3 linked regions of the Homo sapiens genome follow. The protein of the gene in region 1 purifies or fractionates together with the protein of each later gene. This does not show direct contact. Each region holds a gene or a part of one and is shown in the gene's direction. Other genes may lie near its edges.

Region 1 (3,653 bases):
CAAAAAAAAAAAAAAAATCGATACCAGCAGTGTGAGAAACCCAAAACATCTTACCAATGCCTACTTTAAGAAGCAGTTGTGGAAGCCTAGTCAGTAGGAGGGTGAGATCTTTGACAGAAAAAGAGAAATGTAAGACTACAAAGCAGTGCAAGGCTGATCAGAAAACCATGGACTGGCAAATTTTACCAAAACTCAAAGCTATTCCTCAGCTCCAGGGCTACCTGCAATCTGTGTGTGCCCTGGTGAATGGAATTTATCCTCACAAATTGGTGTTCTAAATTTCTTAAGAAGAACCTAATTATGTAACTAAAAAAAAATAAATGAATGCCGTTAATCCCCTTGGGAGCTTGGAGCCTGGTGGGAGAATCAAGGAAGCCTTGGGTGGGCTGCTGGGATGCGGGGGGTCCCTAGGTGTCTAATGACTGAGCAGAGCCCCCTGTGAGGCCACCTCTGTCCTGGGACAGCAGCACAGGCTAAACAAAAGTTCCATGGGGTCTTCATTTGCTAGGGCTGCCTTAACAAAATACCACAGAACGGGAGGCTTAAACAGCAGATATTTACCATCTCAGTTCTGGTGACCAGAAGTCCAAAATCAAGAGGGCAGTAGGGTTGGTTCCTCCTGAGAGCTGTGAAGGAAGGATCTTCTGTGCACCTCTCTCCTTGGCTTGTAGATGGCTGTCTGTACATTCACACAGTGTTCTTTCTTTGTGGATGAGCCTGTCTCCAAATCTCTTCTTAGAAGGACATCAGTCATTGTGGATTAGAGCCCACTCTAACAACCTCATTTTAACTTCGTTACCTCTGTAAAGACTCCAAATAAAGTCACATTCTGAGGTGCTTGGAAGTTAGGACTCCAACATATGCTTTTTGAGGGGGAGGGAGACACAATTCTACCCATAGCATTTGGATTGATTTAAAAAAGGGAAGATTCCTAAGGTGAAGCACAGAAATGAGGAGAAATAGTGAGACACAGAGATACATTTGCAGTAGAAACAAAACTTCCCAGACCAAGGCAGCCTTTTCCTCCAGGCAGGTCGGGGCAGGTCATGTCAGCATCTGAAAAAAAGAGCAGCTGCAAAGTAGGGGGAAAAAACCTTTTCAACATTTTGGAAAGATCTGTAGTGGATTAAATGATACTTGGTGTCTCATCATCAGGATATTTGTGTTTCAGAGGGAGTGAAAATTAGCCTGGCATTGTGACCTTGGGCAAGTCTCTTAATTTCTGTGGTCTTCATCGTTTGATTTTTCATTTCATCTTTAAGAGGTATATTATAATAGCATCTGCTCCATAGAGTTGTTCTGAGAAATCAGCAAGATAGTTTTTCACCACCAAGTCTTATCGGTGCATGCAGCAAATTGTTTTCAGTCAATGTTTGCTGCCTTTGTCGTTATCCGGGCTGGATGCAGATCCAGGCCGCGGCGGGATTCCCATGTCTTCTGTTGTGTGGTAGATTAAAATGAGGCACTGTTCCTGCAGAGCAAGCCCAGCAGCCCTGGTTCCCGTCTGCAAGCAGGTGCCCTGGTCTACTGTTGAGCAAGTGGTGGTCATGGTGGTGCCCATTGGGTGAGGGGCAGCCACAGTTTGGGAACCGAGGCCTTCTTTTCAAAACTCCTTTTTTTGTAAAAAAAAAAAAAAAAAAAAAAAAAAAAAAACAAAAGATAATAATAATAACCCTCTGATCTATGTTGCAAAGGGTGTGCTTGGTCTCTCAAATAATTGCTGTAGTAACTGTCTGAATTTAGTCCTTGTATCTGAGGGAAATCCTGACAAACGGCAAAAATTCCACGCAGACGGTTGGCCAATTATTACAGGTAGTTCAGATAAAATGCCACAGAATCCTCTGGAAATCTATTTCAATTCTTTTCCAAGTAGTGTTTTTGAGGAAACCTAGGTGTCTGGCTTGGTGGTTTCGGGCAATTTCAGTGATGAAGGATGGCTTCCCATCAGCACCATTGCGACCCAGGGTACCCCACACTTGAATGGTATTGTGTCCATGGAAGGAGGAAGTGTAGGTGGGACCTGTTTGAGAGACCAAAGTCCTCTTTTGACATAATCCTAGCACTAGTGTAGTTTGCCTTGAATCATTCGGGTAAAGGCTTTGCCTTGCTGCCTCATTTGGCTGTGAGGATGTTCCTGTGTAGGCTGTTTTTAGAATATTTTCATTAGTGGGCCACCAAAAGTTGGGAATTGTGAAGAGAAATGTCCTGTTGGACAATGTTTACAGTTTTGACTAAGCAAACGTGAGTGGCAAAATGAATTTTTGGCCAACAGTATTCCAAATATTAACTCGCTGAATCTCTTAACTCTCGAAGGTAGGTATTATTATTATTATCCCTGCTTTATAGATGAGTAGATAGGGCCACGAGTCAGCCGGTGGAGGAGTTAAGACCCAAGCCAGCCAGTCTAACTCCTGGGTCTATGCTCCTAACAACCGCATGGTGTGGTAGATTTGTCTTCAAATAAATCATGGCACCCTACGTGTGGCAATGGAAAGCAGTGACTTCTACTTCCCACTGGAAACCCTCGGTGAGGGGCAGGCCTAAATGTAAATGACAAAATAAAGGATAAGTACATTTCTCCTTCTACTTCCTAGGTTCCATTGAAACATCCCAGACAGTGATCTCTCTGAGCATCTGACCAAAATAAGGCATTCCTTTTATTTTTATTTGCTTTTCTATCATTTAACTTGTGTTTTTCTGGAAGACTGAAGGTGTTAAAAAAAAAAAAATTAGTTCAAGAAGAGATGATCTAGTTCGACCAGTTCTGGGTTATTTACTGAGCAGAAATCTGTTAGTGTATTCAAAGGAGAAACAACTCTTTTCATCAACAATAAAAATGTATTACACAATAAAGCTTTGAATGTTGAATGAGTTTCCTTTAATATATCATGTTTATTGAAAGCTCTTACAGGTGAGAACAAATTAATAAGATATCCATGTTAGGTAATCATAAATGTTTTAGAATTTACCCAACATCTGATGATGGCTTGATATATGCAAGGGATAGTATGAAGAGACCTGATAAGTTAAAAATAAGGCCTCTGCCCTTAAGGATTTTATTTAATAGTGGCAGTAATGCTAACAGACAAATGATAAAAAAAAAAAAATATATATATATATATATATATATATATATATATATATATATATATCAATCAGAACTGGCTCTGAGAGGAAGAGACTGGCTGGAAATCAAGGAAGATTTCATGAAGGAAGTAGGGTTTAGGTCCTAGCTCCATGAAGATAGAACCTGTACCCCTTATTTTGGTACCCCAGTTCTTGGCACGGTATCTGGGACATACTAGAAGTGGTGTAGTTCATTGCTATTTAAATAATTAAGTTGAACTTAGATGGTAAGATGTGAGAAGCAGAAATGAGGAAACATCTCCATCCAACCTCATTAAGCAAATATCCATTGTCCATTTTCTCTGGGCCAGGCCTTGTGCCAGGCAGGGAGAGCAGCAGGGGTGAGAGCTTGGCTGCCAGAGAGCTCAGGGTGCAAAGTCCATCTGGGTGGAGGTGTGACTGGGTGTGGGAAGGGAGTGGCAGATAAGGCTGGAAGAGTTGGGAGCAGCATTTGAAAGATCTTGAATGCTGAGGAGTTTAAGGAGAAAGATCTCCCAATGTGTCATTATTGCCTATATTTTTACTTG
Region 2 (3,753 bases), on another chromosome or scaffold:
GGCATTTCTATTCTGCACAATTTGCCACACAGCACTGATTTCAGGAGGGGGAAAAAAAGACAATGGCTTATAAAATGCTTTTGAATGCCTAAAAAGAAGGAGAATTCACGCTGAGACTCCTCTGCTTTCTTTTTTGGAAAGAGCCTTCTTAGTGACTTTAGCTGAGCTCTGCTGAGAGTAAGCAAAGTGGAAAAATCAGAAAATTACTTTTTTTATATGTTTCTGGGGGGCAAAATAGACAGTGAGAAAAAATAAATGGAAAAAAGTGACAATGACATTCTGTGAAACAGCAAATATGCAAGCGGATGAAGACAGCTGAGGAATAAGGAAAAAGGTATGAAAAAAAGCAGCAAAAATGGAGCCACGATGATAAACTTAAAAGGAATTGCAGAGCAGAAAGAACATCATAAATAATCATATTTTCAAATAAGAATACCGTATCAGTTTCTGTGACCTGGATAGAGCACAAGCCTCCCATGATATTTCCTAGCATTTTGATGCATACAAAATGCAATTTTCAGCTCAGGCATTTGATTTGTCAGTGTAAACAACCTTTGGGGTTTTTAAAATACATATCTGAAGTGTTTTCATAAATAATGCATATATTATAAAAATTTGACTTGTAAACTATTGAGTCCATGTCCCCCCTGTATTCACTGCAAAGACTAGCCATGTATAGATAGTGCCTTTTGGTAGAAATTGGCATGCTAAAGCTTGCAGTGTCTTTTACCCAAGATAAATAGGATTTTTTTGAAGTACAGGACAAAGAAATATTACAAACAATTTTGCCCAAACTCAAGGAAAGAAATCATACAAGGTAGAACTATATTGTTAATTAGTTCCAAATTCTGAGGTGTTCCCTTAAGTCTTGCTAATTAAGAGAAATGAAGAGTGCAAGATAGCCCTTTTTTTATCTTCAAAGAATAAAGATGAAAGAAAACAGAAAATGAAACCTCTTTACTTGCTCCGTTCTTTAAAAACAGAGCCCCAAGAAAATCTGCTTGTGCTCCTGGAAGGAGAAAGGCCCAAGTATTTACAGAGGGAGTGGGGAAGGAGGTGGTCTGAGAAGCATAATTAGAAGCAAGTTTTCAAATTGTATTAAATTCCTCCACCAACAAAACGCACTTAGAGGTATTTTAAGTTAAACTAGCACTTAAGGACTATGAAAAGCAAGATGATTACATGTCTGTGGCAGAAGAAAGGGCAATTAAGAAAACAAGAAGAATTTAACGTGCCATATAAATAAAGGCGACCAGAAGTTGATTTAAAGTTTTTCTTCTGTAATTTGTCTCCCCTTTGTCATGGCACGCTCAGAGAAAGTGAATGCAGTAGATTGAAAGGCGGAGGGGGAGTGGGGAGGAAGAAGGAAGGAACAGGGAAGGACTGGCTCCCATCTCCTCCCCCAGCCCCCACCAGCCCATCTCCCCTTCTCTCCCTCGCGCACCCACCCCCGCCTTCCTCCTTCTCCGTCTCTTTCTCTCTCCCACCCTCCACTCTCGCCCTCCCTCCTTGGGTGACTCCATCAGCTTTTGATTTGGAAGCACGCTGATTGGCTGGAAGCGATTCAACACACGCTGGGCAAGAGCTTTGTCTGAGTTGAAGTGAAGTTGTACAGATTTTAGACTGGAGTCAGCAATCACGGGTGTTTAGTCTGCAGCCGAGCAGCTAAAGGGAGAAAGAATCGCTCAGGAAAGACACACTGCAGACTCCACCGGCACCCTGCAATAGATGGATTCCGACTACACAAGGGAGAAAACGCGGAGGTGACACTCTCCTGCCTGGAAAGAGGACGAACGACCAAACAAACGCAAGGACTGGACTCCATGCCGAAGGTATCTGGAAGTCGTGACACGGTGTGTATAAAACAAAAGTTTGCGAGCTGTTAATTGCTGTGCTGTGTTATTAAGAGACGCTTTCAAGTTTCAAGTACCAAATGTAGCTTTACGTTGCCAAAGGAAGTTGAGGCAATTGCTTTGCTGTTTTAACTTGCTCTGTGAGGGAAATCTCATAAACTGACCAATGCACCAAATGAATGCTAAAATGCACTTTAGGTTTGTTTTTGCACTTCTGATAGTATCTTTCAACCACGATGTACTGGGCAAGAATTTGAAATACAGGATTTATGAGGAACAGAGGGTTGGATCAGTAATTGCAAGACTATCAGAGGATGTGGCTGATGTTTTATTGAAGCTTCCTAATCCTTCTACTGTTCGATTTCGAGCCATGCAGAGGGGAAATTCTCCTCTACTTGTAGTAAACGAGGATAATGGGGAAATCAGCATAGGGGCTACAATTGACCGTGAACAACTGTGCCAGAAAAACTTGAACTGTTCCATAGAGTTTGATGTGATCACTCTACCCACAGAGCATCTGCAGCTTTTCCATATTGAAGTTGAAGTGCTGGATATTAATGACAATTCTCCCCAGTTTTCAAGATCTCTCATACCTATTGAGATATCTGAGAGTGCAGCAGTTGGGACTCGCATTCCCCTGGACAGTGCATTTGATCCAGATGTTGGGGAAAATTCCCTCCACACATACTCGCTCTCTGCCAATGATTTTTTTAATATCGAGGTTCGGACCAGGACTGATGGAGCCAAGTATGCAGAACTCATAGTGGTCAGAGAGTTAGATCGGGAGCTGAAGTCAAGCTACGAGCTTCAGCTCACTGCCTCAGACATGGGAGTACCTCAGAGGTCTGGCTCATCCATACTAAAAATAAGCATTTCAGACTCCAATGACAACAGCCCTGCTTTTGAGCAGCAATCTTATATAATACAACTCTTAGAAAACTCCCCGGTTGGCACTTTGCTCTTAGATCTGAATGCCACGGATCCAGATGAGGGCGCTAATGGGAAAATTGTATATTCCTTCAGCAGTCATGTGTCTCCCAAAATTATGGAGACTTTTAAAATTGATTCTGAAAGAGGACATTTGACTCTTTTCAAGCAAGTGGATTATGAAATCACCAAATCCTATGAGATTGATGTTCAGGCTCAAGATTTGGGTCCAAATTCAATCCCAGCCCATTGCAAAATTATAATTAAGGTTGTGGATGTTAATGACAATAAACCTGAAATTAACATCAACCTCATGTCCCCTGGAAAAGAAGAAATATCTTATATTTTTGAAGGGGATCCTATTGATACATTTGTTGCTTTGGTCAGAGTTCAGGACAAGGATTCTGGGCTGAATGGAGAAATAGTTTGTAAGCTTCATGGACATGGTCACTTTAAACTTCAGAAGACATATGAAAACAATTATTTAATCTTAACTAATGCCACACTGGATAGAGAAAAGAGATCTGAGTATAGTTTGACTGTAATCGCTGAGGACAGGGGGACACCCAGTCTCTCTACAGTGAAACATTTTACAGTTCAAATCAATGATATCAATGACAATCCACCCCACTTCCAGAGAAGCCGATATGAATTTGTAATTTCAGAAAATAACTCACCAGGGGCATATATCACCACTGTTACAGCCACAGATCCTGATCTTGGAGAAAATGGGCAAGTGACATACACCATCTTGGAGAGTTTTATTCTAGGAAGTTCCATAACTACATATGTAACCATTGACCCATCTAATGGAGCCATCTATGCCCTCAGAATCTTTGATCATGAAGAAGTGAGTCAGATCACTTTTGTGGTAGAAGCAAGAGATGGAGGAAGCCCGAAGCAACTGGTAAGCAATACCACAGTTGTGCTCACCATCATTGACGAAAATGACAACGTTCCTGTGGTTATAGGG
Region 3 (3,653 bases), on another chromosome or scaffold:
AAGGTTCTGAACCCCTGCCTCAGCTCAGGCACTCCCCTCAAGAGCTCCAGTCCACATATGGATCAAAGAGGCCGTTATTCTAAGATTACAAGGCAAGGGCATTGCAGGGTGTTGCAGACTTAGTATTCCAGATTTTGCAAAACATTTCCACAGTTGTTCAAAAAAAAAAAAAACCCATCACGCATTTGCTGCAGTGATGGACGGGTGTGATCACCTGCCAGAAGGTGCATCTTCAGCAGCAGGCAGGGAGCTGGCTGCCGCTTTGTCCTTCTCCGAGACTGTCGGGACAGCCTGCTGACAGCTGCTGGGGCAGGAGGAATGTGCTGCCCATGGGCGCTGCAGTTCCTGCTTGTTTCGTGTTTGGAGATTCGGTGTTGCTGAACTTGCAGAATCCCAGTCAATTTTGCTTACCAGTGGTTGCTATGTATCAGTGCAGGAAAAATGGTAATCTTTTTCCACTCCCTACCCGGAGTTAGGGCAGAAGAAAGAGGTTTGTGGGAAAAGATGAAAAAGATTCAAGCAGGCTAAAAACCAGAGCAAGAAATGCAGAGGCAGGCAAGGCCCAGAGGAGAAAGAACTCGGAAATGGCACAAGTTAGAGCCTCTCAACAATCTGTTATTCAGAAGATATTTTATGTGTGTTCCTTAGCCAGTGAAGAAGACTTAGAGGAATATACACATTTAGCTCCCTACTAGATATAATTAGAGCAACTCTTTGTAACACTGTTGAATGCTCTTAAAAATGTGAAGTTATGGATTCTACCAAATAAGTATAAAGTCATTTTCATACTGAAAATGTTGAGAAGAACTCTCTATATGACAAGCATGTATTGTATGGGGGCAACATGACTGATTTGCATATATTTTATTTGTGATATAATATTGCAGTTGATCTCCATTTTGAGGGCACACACTAGATCATTTTTAATGTTTTAATGGGTTTTCGTTGTTGTTGTTGTTTTGAGACAGAGTCTCGTTCTGTTGCCCAGGCTGGAGCACAGTGTCACGATTTTGGCTCACTACAACCTCTGCCTCCGGGGTTCAAGCAATTCTACTGCCTCAGCCTCCCAAGTAGCTGGGACTACAGGCATCACATGCCTGGCTAATTTTTGTATTTTTTAGTAGGGATGGGGTTTCACCATGTTGGCCAGGCTGGTCTTGAACTCCTGACCTCAGATGATCTGCCTACTTTGGCCTCCCAAAGTTCTGGATTACAGGTGTGAGCCACCACACCCGGCCAATATTTATTTTTAATTCAAGTTCTTCATTTGTAATTTTCCTCAGATTCACTCAGCAGTTACTGTAGATGATTCTGTTTCAGTTCTTTTTTAAACCATGCTTAAAAGAACTAAGTAACTCTACAGACCTTTTATGTCAAACTGGTGGCTTTTTCATGAGACAGGGACAAGGTGTTACTCTGTTGCCCAGGCTGGAGTGCAGTGGTGCAGTCATAGTTCACTGCAGCCTCCGATGCCTGGGCTCAAGCCATCCTCCCATCTTAGCCTCCCGAGTAGCTAAGATTACAGTCATGCGCCACCACTCCCAGCTGACTTTTAAAATTTTTTTGTAGAGACAGAGTCTCACTGTGTTGCCTGGTTGATCTCACCTGGCCTGAAGCGATGCTCCCACCTTGGCCTCCCAAAGTGCTGGGATAGCAAGCGCAAGCCACCATGCCCAGCACGGATTGGTGGCTTAATGGCCACAGAACTGCTTTTCTCAGAAAGCTACAGTTTTATTATTTAAATTCCATTATTCATTTTGGTGAGAATATCTTGACTCTTCCACTTGTGTAAAGCAGAAGACATATAAAGTGTTAATTCAGAAACCATGTTGAAAAATGTTGGTCAGCCAGGAAGAAGAAAAACACGAGCCGTGTTGTATGTGGAGGCCCCGGTGTCTGGGTGTAATTCTCGTTCCTTCTGTGAGGTGAGGCAGATGAAGCCATTTCGTGGTTCTGCTGAGCATGGTCTTGGCAGTGTTTTTGGGAGCATCACACTGTGCCCCTTTTGTTAACTTGCTAGCCCTCCCTTTTTCTTTTCCTGGTTAATGAAAGGCACTCCTCCGTTCATTGGCACTGTGCCTACAGTAATGTGAAACAGGCTGTTACTGGATTTTAGTGATGTTAGAGACTGTTTTCCAGATGCTTCCTTGCAGTGTGGAGTTGCCTTTTTTGTTCCTTGAGATGATGATCTTCTTTGAGACAGTGGAGTTAGGGGGAATTTTAGACACAATACATCTTTTCCATAAATCATTATGAGGAAGAATTGACCTTTCTTTCTGTAGCACACCCTGCTGTGGAGGCTCCACTTAATCAAATATTTAGAACCTCGTTGGTGTTCATTTCCTGTTCAAAGGGAGGAAAAGATCCTCTGCCGAAGCCCTTCACAGCTGACCGGGTACTTCTGTAAGAGTGTAGAAGAAGGTAGGCTTCCAGGCTTGTCACTGAGTCAACGAAGGGAGCAGGTGCCTCACATGACCTTCACAGAATCTCTAACCTGCTCTTGGGGAGTGGTCAGTGTGCTCCTGGCTTCTGAAGCCGATGCCCATGGAAGCAAATGTCACCCTTAACAGTGGACATCAGTGACCAGCTTTGCATCTGTCACCTCTTTTCAAGCCTTTCCCTTTGAGTCAGCAAGCACTTAAGTCGCAGGTGCTAAGTCGCATGGTGGCTGTGGACCTTTGTTGCTCTTTGGGGCCACCCATCATTTGACCCATTTCTGTTTGGGGCATTCTTAGGTGCTCAGAAGATGATTTGATTAGGGAGCTGGTACAGACGGGCTGTCCCATCAGGTGCGCCCACCTGTTGGAATCAGGAACTGGTCACGCGAGGTGGGGGCCCAGAGGCAGCCAGGCAGTCTCTGCCAGGTGCCCGGCGCATGATTTGTGGTTTTGCTCCTGCCACGTGGCCCTGCCCTGGCTTTCCAGGCCACAGGAGGGTCTGTGAGCTGCAAACTCCCCTTTGAAGAATTCCCTTTTTGTTTAAATTAATCAGAGTTTGGTTACTGCGATGAAGAATCTTGATGGACAACCCGGGGAAGTGATCAGCATGTTGTAATTTCTAGTCCCTAAAACACTCCTGTTTAATTATGCTCTAAAGAGAAAGTTAATCTGTCATTTTTCTTACTTACTCCACCACAGTGCCTTGTTTGCCTCTCTTCTCATTAGACACAATTTAAGCCATCTACTTTCATCTTTTGAATGTAAAACAATGCATTTTTAAACATCTGTAGTATAGTACCAAATTATCTCAGCAGTAAGAGCGGTACAGTGTTTTTTTTAATATTTAGTGACTTTTGTCTGGAAAAATTAAGGTTTTTTTTCTGATTTCATAGTCTGCTTAGCTCATGATCAAAAATGGAAACTTAAAAAAATATGTTTATCCATACTTAACTGGGACATTTTGGTAAGTTACCTTATTTAATAGATGTGAGAGGTTAATAGTGATCTTATTTAGCTGTGTGGTCCACTTATTTGACACGTATTAAGCACCTTCTGTATACAGCCAGCAAACCCAGATGTGGCCCAGTCCTCATGGAGCCCAGTCTAGTGGCACAGAAAAATAGTCATGTGACTGTAAGTTGCCAGGGTGCCACACATTGCTTGACAGGGTGAGATGTCCAGAGGCCTATGGAAGAGGGATGGGATCAGCTCAGG

What was found.
Region 2: the proteins of CDH17 (region 1) and PCDH18 purify together in Homo sapiens (affinity purification with mass spectrometry; one large-scale study listed by BioGRID and IntAct). This does not show direct contact.
Region 3: the proteins of CDH17 (region 1) and TMTC4 purify together in Homo sapiens (affinity purification with mass spectrometry; one large-scale study listed by BioGRID and IntAct). This does not show direct contact.

The regions. Positions count from the first base shown.
Region 1 is NC_000008.11:94,198,538-94,202,190, reverse strand, and holds part of CDH17 (cadherin-17 isoform 1 precursor), read left to right. Parts: intron 1-3,653. UniProt on the Homo sapiens protein: Cadherins are calcium-dependent cell adhesion proteins. They preferentially interact with themselves in a homophilic manner in connecting cells; cadherins may thus contribute to the sorting of heterogeneous cell types.
Region 2 is NC_000004.12:137,530,355-137,534,107, reverse strand, and holds the start of PCDH18 (protocadherin-18 isoform 1 precursor), read left to right. Parts: upstream 1-1,613; 5' UTR 1,614-2,019; coding exon 2,020-3,753. UniProt on the Homo sapiens protein: Potential calcium-dependent cell-adhesion protein.
Region 3 is NC_000013.11:100,664,737-100,668,389, reverse strand, and holds part of TMTC4 (protein O-mannosyl-transferase TMTC4), read left to right. Parts: intron 1-3,653. UniProt on the Homo sapiens protein: Transfers mannosyl residues to the hydroxyl group of serine or threonine residues.